Regions from separate parts of the Homo sapiens genome. Here all the other regions are reported to be linked to region 4. The links are microRNA targets in miRTarBase. Many come from high-throughput screens and were not tested one by one. Region 4 holds a microRNA gene; each other region holds the end of a gene's coding sequence.

What was found. The annotated mature microRNA hsa-miR-340-5p reads UUAUAAAGCAAUGAGACUGAUU and lies in region 4 at 1,701-1,722, opposite strand. An mRNA with a match to its seed (bases 2 to 7 or 8) in the 3' UTR can be bound and repressed. Matches are read on the target gene's strand: a 7mer-m8 pairs with bases 2 to 8, a 7mer-A1 pairs with bases 2 to 7 and ends in A, and an 8mer does both.
Region 1: miRTarBase lists KCNK1 as a target of hsa-miR-340-5p. Seed matches in the 3' UTR shown: 7mer-A1 at 1,076-1,082, 7mer-A1 at 1,158-1,164, 7mer-m8 at 1,297-1,303 and 7mer-A1 at 1,432-1,438.
Region 2: the mRNA of CERCAM is a reported target of hsa-miR-340-5p. The part of its 3' UTR that is shown has no 7-base or 8-base seed match.
Region 3: miRTarBase lists TNS1 as a target of hsa-miR-340-5p. The part of its 3' UTR that is shown has no 7-base or 8-base seed match.

Annotation. Positions count from the first base shown.
Region 1 is chr1:233,670,872-233,674,117 of GRCh38, forward strand. It overlaps KCNK1 (potassium two pore domain channel subfamily K member 1), which reads left to right. Exons shown (of 3, transcript NM_002245.4): 3 at 400-1,643. The coding sequence ends at 659. Among named protein-coding and RNA genes, the nearest start is that of MIR4427, 48 kb to the left of the region's middle.
Region 2 is chr9:128,435,476-128,438,475 of GRCh38, reverse strand. It overlaps CERCAM (cerebral endothelial cell adhesion molecule), which reads right to left. Exons shown (of 13, transcript NM_016174.5): 12 at 2,571-2,823; 13 at 1,129-1,627. The coding sequence ends at 2,571. Among named protein-coding and RNA genes, the nearest start is that of CERCAM, 16 kb to the right of the region's middle.
Region 3 is chr2:217,801,802-217,805,047 of GRCh38, reverse strand. TNS1 (tensin 1) reads left to right here. Exons shown (of 33, transcript NM_001387777.1): 33 at 445-3,246. The coding sequence ends at 589. Among named protein-coding and RNA genes, the nearest start is that of DIRC3, 13 kb to the right of the region's middle.
Region 4 is chr5:180,013,661-180,016,660 of GRCh38, forward strand. MIR340 (microRNA 340) reads right to left here and starts at 1,737; the gene lies at 1,643-1,737. The region is part of intron 2 of RNF130 (ring finger protein 130); the gene reads right to left.

The sequences.
Region 1 (3,246 bases), not on the chromosome of region 4:
AAACATCACTGGCTTTTTGTGAGCCACTGATTATAAAGCAGAGGTGGCAAACCCTCCTTGCATAAAATATCACACTTGGGTAAGTGCAGTATGTTATGTGTCTTTAATAATGCCACATCAGCCCCAAGTATTTTTTTTTTCTCAAAAATTGCAGCCTGTGATTCTAACTAATCCAAGTTCATAGGAGGTTAAATCATTCTTCATTGTCTTTCACTCTTTAATAATGGGTAGTTCCTCTTTGAACCATGAACTTAAAAACACTTCTAAAAATTAAGAAACTGGCAATGAGTTTATTCCTTAACAAACACTGTGTTGGCATGAGGTGGGGAGGTAAATCACTCGCTACTTGATTTATCCATGTTGAGATCACACTAAGACAGTGTCCTGTTTCTCACACAGGTTACCTGCTACTTGGCCTTATTGCCATGTTGGTAGTTCTGGAAACCTTCTGTGAACTCCATGAGCTGAAAAAATTCAGAAAAATGTTCTATGTGAAGAAGGACAAGGACGAGGATCAGGTGCACATCATAGAGCATGACCAACTGTCCTTCTCCTCGATCACAGACCAGGCAGCTGGCATGAAAGAGGACCAGAAGCAAAATGAGCCTTTTGTGGCCACCCAGTCATCTGCCTGCGTGGATGGCCCTGCAAACCATTGAGCGTAGGATTTGTTGCATTATGCTAGAGCACCAGGGTCAGGGTGCAAGGAAGAGGCTTAAGTATGTTCATTTTTATCAGAATGCAAAAGCGAAAATTATGTCACTTTAAGAAATAGCTACTGTTTGCAATGTCTTATTAAAAAACAACAAAAAAAGACAAATGGAACAAAGAAGCTGTGACCCCAGCAGGATGTCTAATATGTGAGGAAATGAGATGTCCACCTAAAATTCATATGTGACAAAATTATCTCGACCTTACATAGGAGGAGAATACTTGAAGCAGTATGCTGCTGTGGTTAGAAGCAGATTTTATACTTTTAACTGGAAACTTTGGGGTTTGCATTTAGATCATTTAGCTGATGGCTAAATAGCAAAATTTATATTTAGAAGCAAAAAAAAAAAGCATAGAGATGTGTTTTATAAATAGGTTTATGTGTACTGGTTTGCATGTACCCACCCAAAATGATTATTTTTGTAGAATCTAAGTTAAACTTACTATTTATAATGCATAGGTAACCATTAACTATGTACATATAAAGTATAAATATGTTTATATTCTGTACATATGGTTTAGGTCACCAGATCCTAGTGTAGTTCTGAAACTAAGACTATAGATATTTTGTTTCTTTTGATTTCTCTTTATACTAAAGAATCCAGAGTTGCTACAATAAAATAAGGGGAATAATAAACTTGAGAGTGAATAACCATAGTATTCTGCTGCAATAAATGTTTCTACCCTCTTGCGATAGAATGGTGTCAGATGTCTAACATGTTTATAAACATTTTTTTGAATTGAACAGGTTATGAAAAGGATTTATTAAAAGGTTAAGATACTTTGTTTTGAAAGTACATTGTGATTTGCAGCCACCTAGCACTAAAGCATAGAACTTAAACACGAATCCCTAAATGAACAGATTATGTTACATTAATCTGAGAATTTTAAATTTAGAAGCTAAAATAAATAAAAATCACAGCTGGTTGTAATCTTATGCTTTCATATATCAGAAGTGTGCCTCTATGTAGAATATATATACATATGTGTGTGTATATACATATATATATGTATGTATATATATACATATGTATATATATATATATGTGTGTATATATATATATATATATACGTATATATATATATATAGTCCTTCATAGAAAACATAAAGGTCACATTTAGATGACGTACACAGGATACTATTATATTAAGGATTTTAGAAAAGAAAATGAGAAAGCCCCTGTGTGATAATGAATGTCCACTGACCCCCGCAATGGAGCCTTACCTCCCATGGGTGGCTGCCCAGGAGTTGGTGGTTGAGGGGCTGGTAAAAATCAGTGCAAAATCAGCGCCCTCTGATGAGCCAGCCAAGCACTTTGATCGCGGGCCAGTCTCCTGACAGTGGGTCACTCGCTCAGTAACCTTCTACCTTCTGTACCATGTGCTGCCATGAGTAAATTATTACCAACTGCAGGGCAAAGGGAAAGCATCCCCTTACCCTTCGGAAGATTTGCTGAAAAATCAACTCACAAAAAGGCAGATTAATGAGAAAAGGCATACACATTTATTAACTACCATGCACACAGAAAGAATTACAGAGTGATTGTCCAATATCTCAATAGGGGTTCACATGCTTAAATATCTTACTGATTAGAGGACAGGGAGATGGAAAAATATAGGTGATTTTAGAGGGATAGTATATGATTTTTAGAGGAATCCAAGTGTGCTGCCCCGTAAGCATATTTCCTCCCTGCTGACCATGTCCCTGCAATAGAAGACTGCTGTCATGAGGCCAGATCATTGGTTAAGGGTAGAATAGAGAATCCTTGGAGAATAGAGGCATGCATCCTGCCATAACTGGATCTGCAACATTTCCGATGGTCACAAGCCTTGGTGTGGAGCAGAGTCCTGAGATGCTCATCAATATAAATCACAGAAGCTGGATTACACTTGGAGAGTGTTATTCTATTTTATGCAATGCAGGAAAAAATAATGGCTAGTTTGCTACAGCTGCTTGGCTCTAACATGAGAGGGAAGTTCAAAGTCCAGAAAATGAGGAAGTACGTGAAGAAAAACTTCTGAATCAGATGTGATTAATAAGTAATAGAGTGTAGTACTTAATTTTAGGAACTCGTTTGAATCCGCAGAGAACACATTAAACCTTAATGCCCTTCAGATTGTTGTTAATGTGAAGGGCAAAGTAGAAAAGTAGGAGCAAGTTTTGCCTCGGCCCCCACCCTAGCAGGCAGGAAAGTAAGGGAGGATGTCTTCCCCAGGGTTTCTTTTTGTCTTTGGCCGATGATGCTGCCCTTTGGTCCCCAGGGAGAAGCGAGCTTGGTCACCCAGGAGGAGCTCTGGGTCAGCCTCTCAGAGAACAGAAATTCGGCTTGCTGCAGGCATGACAAGGAGGTGGAAGATGAACAGTGTAGCTAAGCCAGAACTGACCTTGGGAACCCTTTAGTTGGAGGCGAGAGAGTGGGAAGTTGGAGGTAAAAGTGACTACTAGAGAATTCTGGGTGATGAGTACAAGCTGAACTCACTTGCTTAGCTTGAGCCTTCAAGATTGAGTTCCTAAGATGCCTGCGGAATGCCCTC
Region 2 (3,000 bases), not on the chromosome of region 4:
GCACAGAGGTGATGCTGGATCGGCCTGACTCCTCACCTGTCCTCCCCTCTCTGTCCCTCCAATTGCTCAACCATAGATCAGGAAGCCTCCTCCCAGGCCAGCTGAGATGCAGAGGCTCAGCCATGAGTTAAAAAATATAAAGTAAAAATACAAAAATTAGCTGGGCGTGGTGGCACATGCCTGTAATCCCAGCTACTAGGGAGGCTGAGGAAGGAGAATCGCTTCAACCCAAGAGGCGGAGGCTGCAGTGAGCCGAGATCACACCACTGCACTCCAGCCTGGGTGACAGAGCGAGACTCTGTCTTAAAAACAAACAAATATATATACATGTATATATATGTATGTATACATATATACATGTATATACACGTATGTGTACATATATACACGTATATATACGTGTATATACGTGTGTGTATATACGTGTATATACGTGTGTGTATATACGTGTATATACGTGTGTGTATATACGTGTATATACGTGTGTGTATATACGTGTATATACGTGTGTGTATATACGTGTATATACGTGTGTGTATATACGTGTATATACGTGTATGTGTATATACGTGTATATACGTGTATGTGTATATACGTGTATATACGTGTATGTGTATATACGTGTATATACGTGTATGTGTATATACGTGTATATACACGTATATATGTATATATACGTGTATATATACGTATATACGTGTATATATATGTATATATATAAAGTGGCAGGGTGCAGTGGCTCACGCCTCTCATCCCAGCACTGTGGGAGGCCGAGGTGGATAGATTGTTTGAGCCCAGGAGTTTGAGACCAGCCTGGGCAACATGCAAAACCCAGTCTCTACAAAAAAAAATGTGGCCAGGCATGGTGGCATGTGCCTGTGGTCCAGCTACATGGGAGGCTGAAGCAGGAAGATTGCCTGAGCCCAGGAGGTTGAGGCTGCAGTGAGCTGGGTTTGCGCCATTGCACTTCAGCCTGGGCAACAGAGGGAGACCCTGTGTCAAAAAATATATATATACATACATACATACATACATATATATATATATATATATATATATATATACACATACACATACATACATATATATATATATATATATATACATATATATACATACATATATATATTTAAAGTGCAAATGGCTTTTATTGAGGGCCTACTGTGTGCTGGGCAACATGTCTGCAAGGGTCCTGCTTTACCTCCCTGTACTTTGCACCGGCCAGGGAGGAGGGTGCTGGGGAGACCCAAACATCAAGCTGGGGGAGGGTGCTGAGGTGGAGGTAGAAGGGGGCAGAGGGGCCCCTCAGCTGAGTCCTTAGGGAGGGAAGGGATCCTGGGGTCTGCCCAGCTTGAAACAGAAGCTGGGGGCCACAAGGCCCTGAATCAGGCCAGGCAGGGTACAGGGGCCTGGGAGTCCTGCTCCTTTGCTGTGAGACCTTTAGGGAATGGGATCCATCTCTGAGTGGTTTCTCCCGATGAAAGACAGGTCCAGAGGGCAGAGTGGCCATGCCCAAGGTGGTGGCCAGGTCTGACAGGATCTGCAGTCCCTGCCAACAACCTCCTCCTCTGCTCTCTGGGCAGTAGTGGCCTGCTCCTGGACACTGCTTTGCAGTCATCACCTGGACCTGGTGGGACAGGAGGAGCAGGAAGAGAAAGAGAATTAGAGTCAGACAGAATCAGAGACAGACAGACACTGACAGATATAGGAAAACAGGGGCAGAGACAGACAGAGAGGGAAAAAGCTAGAGAGGGATGCGGAGACAGCTGAAGGTACAATTATAGACAGACACAGAGGCCAGGCACAGTGGCTCACGCCTGTAATCCCCAGCACTTTGGGAGACCGAGACGGCTGGATCATTTGAGGTCAGGAGTTGAAAACCAGCCTGGCCAACATGATGACACCCTGTCTCTACTAAAAATACAAAAGGCCAGGCGCGGTGGCTCACGCCTGTAATCCCAGCACATTGGGAAGCTGAGGCGGGCAGATCACCTCAGGTCAGGAGTTCAAGACCAGCCTGGCCAACATGGTGAAACCCTGTCTCTACTAAAAATACAAAATTTAGCCGGACGTGGTGGTGGGCGCCTGTAGTCCCAACTACTCGGGAGGCTGAGACAGGAGAATCGCTTGAATCCGGGACGCGGGAGGCAGAGGTTGCAGTGAGCTGAGATCATGCCACTGCACTCCAGCCTGGGCAAAAGAGCAAGACTCCATCTCAAAATAAATAAATAAATAAAAATAAAAATAGAAAAATTAGCCAGGCCTTGTGGTGGGTGCCTGTAATCCCAGTTACTGGGGAGGCTGAGGCAGGAGAATCTCTTGAGCCCGAGAGGCAGAGGTTGCAGTGAGCCAAAATCACGCCACTGCACTCCAGCCTGGGCGACAGAGCGAGACTCCGTCTAAAAAAAACAAACAAACAACAACAACAACAAACATAAAGGCAAAGCTAGAGATGGAGAGGGAGAGAGAAGGCTGAGAAGGGGAAAACAGCCCCAGACACAGTTATGCCATCAAAGGGGAGAGCAAGCCAAGGTCTACGGGGCTGGGGCCTCTTCCCGCCCTGGCCTCACCTAGAGCTCATCTCGGGGCTGGGGTTGGAGGCTGTGCCCGCTGCTGCCAGTCAGGTCCAGGCGGGGGCTGCGCAGGGTCTTTTGGGAGCCGCTCCAGCTGATGAGGCGGCCGCTGTCATCATCCCATGGAGAGGATGTCTCCGTGTCACTGAGCCACTCGGCGTCCCCGGCATAGTGGGTAGGGGCAGCGAGCAGGGGCTGGGCGGAGAAGGCCACCAGGTCCCGTGGCCAGAAGTGTGCCTTGTACTGCTCGCTGTAAGGTGAGAGGATAGCTCAGGGGGATTGAGGCGGGCCCCTACTCCCCGGACACATGCCTGCCCGGAGCCAGGCACCTTGCCTGCCCAAAGCACCTCACTCCCCGCCATCTAGTCCTCACAGCGGCCCTGAGCAGTGGGACTTCTACTACCTCCATTTTCCAGATGAGGAAACA
Region 3 (3,246 bases), not on the chromosome of region 4:
GTGTCTGAGGAGGCTGAGCCGTTTGCAGGCAGACAGCACTTTCCTGATTGGCATATGTGTTGTGTGTAAGAACAGTCAGTAGGGGTAGGGCTGGGATGGGCGGGGAGAGGCCTGTCTAGGAATGTTCCCATTTTATTTTGGTCTCCTCCCCACCCCTCACTATCCAGCCTTGTCAATCCTCTGCAGCTCCCCTCGCACCCCTTCAAAGGGGATTTCTGCCCACCCTTAAACAAGGTGGGACACTGTCTCTAGGACTTGGCTTGTGGTCAGGGGAGTGCACAGAGGATTCTCTTCTGCACCTCTCTGAGTCCCTGATGCTGAGGCCTGCTGGAGGGATGGGGAAGAGAGGTTGGCCTGAGACCAGCTTGCTCACCTGGGCTGCTGTCCACCTCCTGGGGTTCCACTTGCCCTTCCCTCATGCCCGTTGCCCTCTCCCGCCTGCAGGCTCTTCGGCTTCGTGGCCCGGAAGCAGGGCAGCACCACGGACAACGCCTGCCACCTCTTTGCTGAGCTTGACCCCAACCAGCCGGCCTCTGCCATCGTCAACTTCGTCTCCAAGGTCATGCTGAATGCCGGCCAAAAGAGATGAACCCTGCCCCTTGCCCAGGGCCAGTGCCATGGGGAAGGGGCTTGTGGGGAGGGGACCCATGAATCCTGACCACTCTTGAACCCAGAAGGAGGACTTTGGGCCAATTTCGGAGGAGAGAAGAAAGTGCAACGTGGGGAGAGGGAAGTGAATTGCAGAGGGGAGGGGGAAAAGAGAGAGAGAGAGAGAGAGAGAGAGAGAGAGAAAGATGGAGGAGAAGAACTTGGATTCCCCTGGGTAGATGGAAACTGCAAAAACCCAAAGCCTCCAAAACTAACCAGGTCCACCTAACACCCCCTCCCTCCCCTAAGAAGATGGATGTCCTCAAAAGAGAAGGAACAAACCTCCTTGGGAATCCACATTTTTTGGGGGAATGGAAAAGCTCTGTCTCCCTAACTCAACTGCTTTGCAAGGGGAAATCAAGCTGGGAGAATCTTTTTCTGGCCACCTGTGGGGTAGGTTGTCAAACCAAACAGAGCCACCGTGGGACATCAAGTGGAAGAACTTGTTTGCTTGAAAGTATCTCAGACCCAAGGCACCTCAGGTCTCTTTGCTGTGCCTCCACTATATTGTCGTGTGGGTGTGTGTCTGCACCCACATCCTCACACATTGATCTAGATCTGCCTTTATCCACTCGAATTATAAACAGCTCGGCTTGTCCTTGTCCCATGTGTTTGTAGACACACATGCATACTGTCCAAAGATTAGGGTTGGTGGTGGCAGTGCAGCAGGGGAGGGACAAACAACCAAGCTATGGGTGACAGAGGCTCTCTCCTGGTGCCTGCACCTGCACTCTAGTGACCCTGGGTGCCGCCAGACCCTTCTCTTCTACAAAGACCCCAGCAGGAGTGGGAGGGTCTGCAATGGCATCGCCCTGTCCTGCCTTGGCCAGAAGCCTGGAGCTTTGGTTTGAGGAGGTAGAGATATGTGTATCCATAGGAAGAGATCTGTCAGAACAGGCAGCTGTTGAGCTCGGGGTGTCTTCCCCAAGGCATGTGGCTCAGCAGCAAGAAAGGCAAGTTGCTCCTGCTGGGGCCCTGGACTCTGCCTTAGCTCCCACCTCTCAGCCTTGTTATTGGGTTTCATGCCCCTGGACCAGCCTTATCTCAGACCTGCTTACCTGCATGATGCCTTTTTGGGGGCTGGGGATTGAGTCTTGCTGCTCTGCCCAGCCCTGTTCTATTCTGCAGGGTCCCTGTGTTGGAATTCTCCCTGGGGAACCTACTTTCTGCTCAGTGAGGCTCCGGCCAGAAACCTGGAGTCCTTATCCTCCCCTCTGTAAGTGTTTTAGGGTCTGGCTTTTGCAGGCACCCTCTGACCTCAGCAGAGCTCCTGGGCCTGCTGCCTGCACACCACATCGCCTACCTACAATGCCAAAGCCTCACTGTCACCCTTTCTGCCTTGGTTTCCCTAGCTGAGCCACGCTGCCCATGCAGCAGAGGGCAGAAGGCTTGCACTTGGGCCAAAGGGCCTAAGGTCCACTGGACAGTTGGGAAAACACCTGACCACCATTTAAGGACTCTAAGCCAGAATGGAAAATTCACCAGGACTCCATTCTTAAGCCTATGCGAGTCCCCTAGAGAGAGGCATTGTACTGATATATAAATATTATATAATATATACATGAGACATACTGACAGAATCTGTAAGCTAATAAAATGTAAGAAAAGGTTAAAAAAAGAATAGGTAAATTGACAAGAAGTATTTATTGTTTTTCCATATTGCTTTATTGCCTTCCTTGGGGATAAACCAATTCCTATCCTTTTTTATATGTGTAAGTAAAGCCTGAAGTGTAGGGGGCCTTTGTTCTTGAAGCAGCCAGGGTCTCCTTGCCCTGGCCTTGGCCTTCCCTAGACTGTGTGGGGCTCAGCATTGGGAGGGGTTGCACATGTCCCAGCCTTTGGCCCCCTTACTTTTCAGCAAGCCAGGGGCCCAGCAGTCAGCTCCCAGGATGTGTGGGGAGCTGTCCCTGACTCTGCAGGCCTGAGCGAGTGTGTGAGCATGCGGGGACATGGGTGTGTATGGCACACATAGGTGCGTGTGTGTCTTTTGTATTTTTTCTCCTCCAAGGAGCTGTGTCAGTGTGGACGTTCTGTTTCAGGGAGTTGGAAAGGAGGGTGTCTGCAGAAGGTGGAGAGCAGGGGCAGAGGCCCCACTGGCCACCCCCTGCTTCCCAGAGTGAAACCTTGTGCCTGGTGACCAAAGTCCCTCCAAAGTGCTCTTCCTTCTGGGTTATTCAAGCCAAATATCTGGGTTTCCCCCTCTCCTCATTCCCTAGCAAACCCCAATTATCTTCCAAGATAGGAGATATTTCCCATCCCCTTCCTTTGTAAATATCTCATCTCCCACTGGAGAGCCCAGGAGCCTATTCCTGGCATGGATGTTCTGTCCACACTTGAGGCTGGGCGGTGTATCAGACCCTTCAAGCAGCCTGGCTGGGGCCCAGGACTGAGTCTGGGGTCAGCTTTCACGGTCGCTTTTCCCTTCCTCACCACCCACCACAGCCCACCTTGCATGCATGGCCAGCCCCTCCACTCCAGCCTGAGCCATGTGTGCCCCTGCGGGAGGACCCATTCATGCCAGAAAGCTGGTAACTCCCTCCCAGCATCCCTGCGGAAGGAGTCAGTTTCTGAGAGTGTGACTTTTCAAGGCGAATGATG
Region 4 (3,000 bases):
CAACATCATGGTAGATTTACACTGTAAAACCTTTTCTATTTTAAAATGATCTTCAGAAAGTCTTAATTCCTTAAGAAATGGAGTAAAGTGCTGTTTTTATAGCATAAATTGGTACTTCTTGCACTAATCTAGGAACATTCATGGAGTACCCACTGTCTGTAGAACTAGTGCCAGGAACAAAAACAAGTACAGGATACCAAGCTTTCTAATCTCACTGAGACAGGGGACACACAGCTGGTAACAGAGCTACAAAGTGCCAAATGGTGCCACCTTTTATTAGTGACATCTGAAACTAACTTGGGTCTTATGTCCAGACTTGAGTGGAGTTGAGGCTCCTTGCTAGTTTACCCCAGAACTCTTCTGGAAATCAAACGTTCCAGAGACAGGTCCAGGCTTCAACATTCTGGACCAGTTTGGCATCGAAATACCTCCAGCCTCTAACAGTTGTCCAGAGGTCTGCCCACAAGCACAGGCTATGCAAGTTAATTACGAGGACAGTCTTAAGTTGCCTTATAGTTACCTAGACCTTTCCCCTACATAATTTCCAGAAGTAGTAACAGTGAAGGAATTGAATACCTCTTCCTATGGACAGCAGGAAACTGCTATCCCTTTCCTCCTCCACAAAGGAAATAACTTCCCACTGTCTTTTAAGGAAACAGAGAAACTTCTATCAATCTATCAGCGATTGTCCTTTCATAAGCTGAAGCTGCCGGTGGCAACATGTAGCTTCTACATTTGCCTTCTCCAGAGAGCCCCTGAGAGAGACTAGGGGTCATTAGAAGGGAAATAAATATTTTATTTTGGGAAAGAGAAAATTATAACCACTTATTTGAATTTGAATAAGGTTTGTACATATCAATGTAAACCAACAAAACAATCAAGCAGAAGTCCCCAAAACTTGTCCTTTTCAATCCTTCTTCAATGAATAACACATTGAAATATTTGGTTTTACATGTTTCATTTACCATATTTAGCTAAAAGAACCATCTTTGTGTTACATGCAGTCACAGAAGACTACACGCAACTGAAAAGAAATTCAACAGGGCTGGGCGTGGTGGCTCATGCCTATAATCCCAGCACTTTGGGAAGCCAGGGCAGGTGGATTGCTTGAGCTCAGGAGTCCAAGACCAGCCTGGGCAACATGGTGAAACCCTGTCTCTCACAAAAACAGGAACATTAGCTAGGCATGGTGGCACATGTCTGTGGTCCCAGATACTCAGGAGGCTGAGGTGGGAGGATCACTGGAGTCCAGGAAGTTGAGGCTGCAGTGAGCTGAGATCACGCCACTGCACGCCAGCCTGGGTGACAGAGCAAGACCCTCAAAAAAAAGAAGAGAAATACAACAGTAAAAGGAGTTTTATGGAAAATGTAACCCAATGGAACATATACCTTTTTACTACCTTACTCAAAATTGTTACAGCCACTTTATTAGAACAGCAGTTTACCAGAATACCGATTAAAAATCTACAAAAAACTATAAAATTAAAGCAAGCAATAAACATCTAATTAATATCTAATTACCTTTCTGAAATAAGAGTTGTGATCAGTAAATTAGAGACAATCACAAAATAATGCTAAACCGCTTTAAATTTCCCTTTAGAAATCTCTTAAAATGTTGTTCAACGGGCCATGATCTGTGGTATAAGATACCAGGTATGGCTATAAAGTAACTGAGACGGATCCCACAAACGACATATGACAATCAGTCTCATTGCTTTATAATCACACCAGGTACAAACGGTTTTAGAAATCAGTTGAGGCTCCCTCTTGAAGACTCAAGCTGGAAAAGGAGTAGGGAAAGGAGTAGGGAAAGGAGTAGGGAAAGGAGTAGGAAAGGAGTAGGGAAAGGAGTAGGAAAGGAGTAGGGAAAGGAGTAGGAAAGGAGTAGGGGAAGGAGTAGGGAAGGAGTAGGGAAAGGAGTAGGGAAAGGAGTAGGGAAAGGAGTAGGGAAAGGAGTAGGGAAAGGAGTAGGGAAAGGAGTAGGGAAAGGAGTAGGAAAGGAGTAGGAAAGGAGTAGGGAAAGGAGTAGGAAAGGAGTAGGGAAAGGAGTAGGGAAAGGAGTAGGAAAGGAGTAGGAAAAGGAGTAGGAAAGGAGTAGGGAAAGGAGTAGGGAAAGGAAAGCTGAACAGGTAGCCAAGGAAACCAATCCATGTGATTCTATTCAAAGAACACTAAATAAGAACACCAACTAATTTCAACGGGAAAGCTGTTTGGGAAAAGAAGTGTGTAATTATTTCAACCATCCATTCAACAATATTTATTGAGCACATACTATGATCAGGCTCCTTTCACCTCTTAAAGAGAGTAGAAAATTACCTGCTCTTGATGCAAAAATCCACACGCCCTCAGGAGCAAAGGGGGAACCTTTTGGACTAGGAAGAGAAGCCGCTCGCGGTGGCGTCATTACACCAGCACAGAGAAGAGCCGGGCAGAGGAGCCCGACCCTGCCGATCGGGCAGGAGGACAGCAGAACGAAAGCCCGCCACCAACTTGCAAAGGACTGGAGTTTTAGGTCTTAAATCTTTTACAGAATCTGGCGAAAGTTATATAGGAGTCCCCTCCTAGGAGAAAGGGCCTTCTCCCCATACTCCACCCCTAAAGCCTGATAGGGCTCAAAGACCCTGACCTAAAGCTGCCTCAGACACTTGACTTTTAAGGATCTGAGGAGCTCTGGCCCAGTTTCACGCCAAAGGAAATGTAGGCTTCACAATAAAGGGCCGGTCAGAGGAGGCAGTGACTGAAAAGAGTGAAGAATAATTAGACTGTAACGCTGTAAATATCAAAGCACATTTGGGACATGCCCCACCACTCCCATGTCCCAGGCCCTGGGCAAACACTGCTAGTAAGTCACGGATGCGGCCACGCTCCCACGCACTTCCACGTCTGGCCGCCAGTACTAACTGTCAGAGATGGCAATCCAGTGAAAGCCCATCTGTGATCCCTGCTTCCAACTATTTTCTTGAGAAACTTCCCCCACTGTTATTCTTTAACAGGAACTTC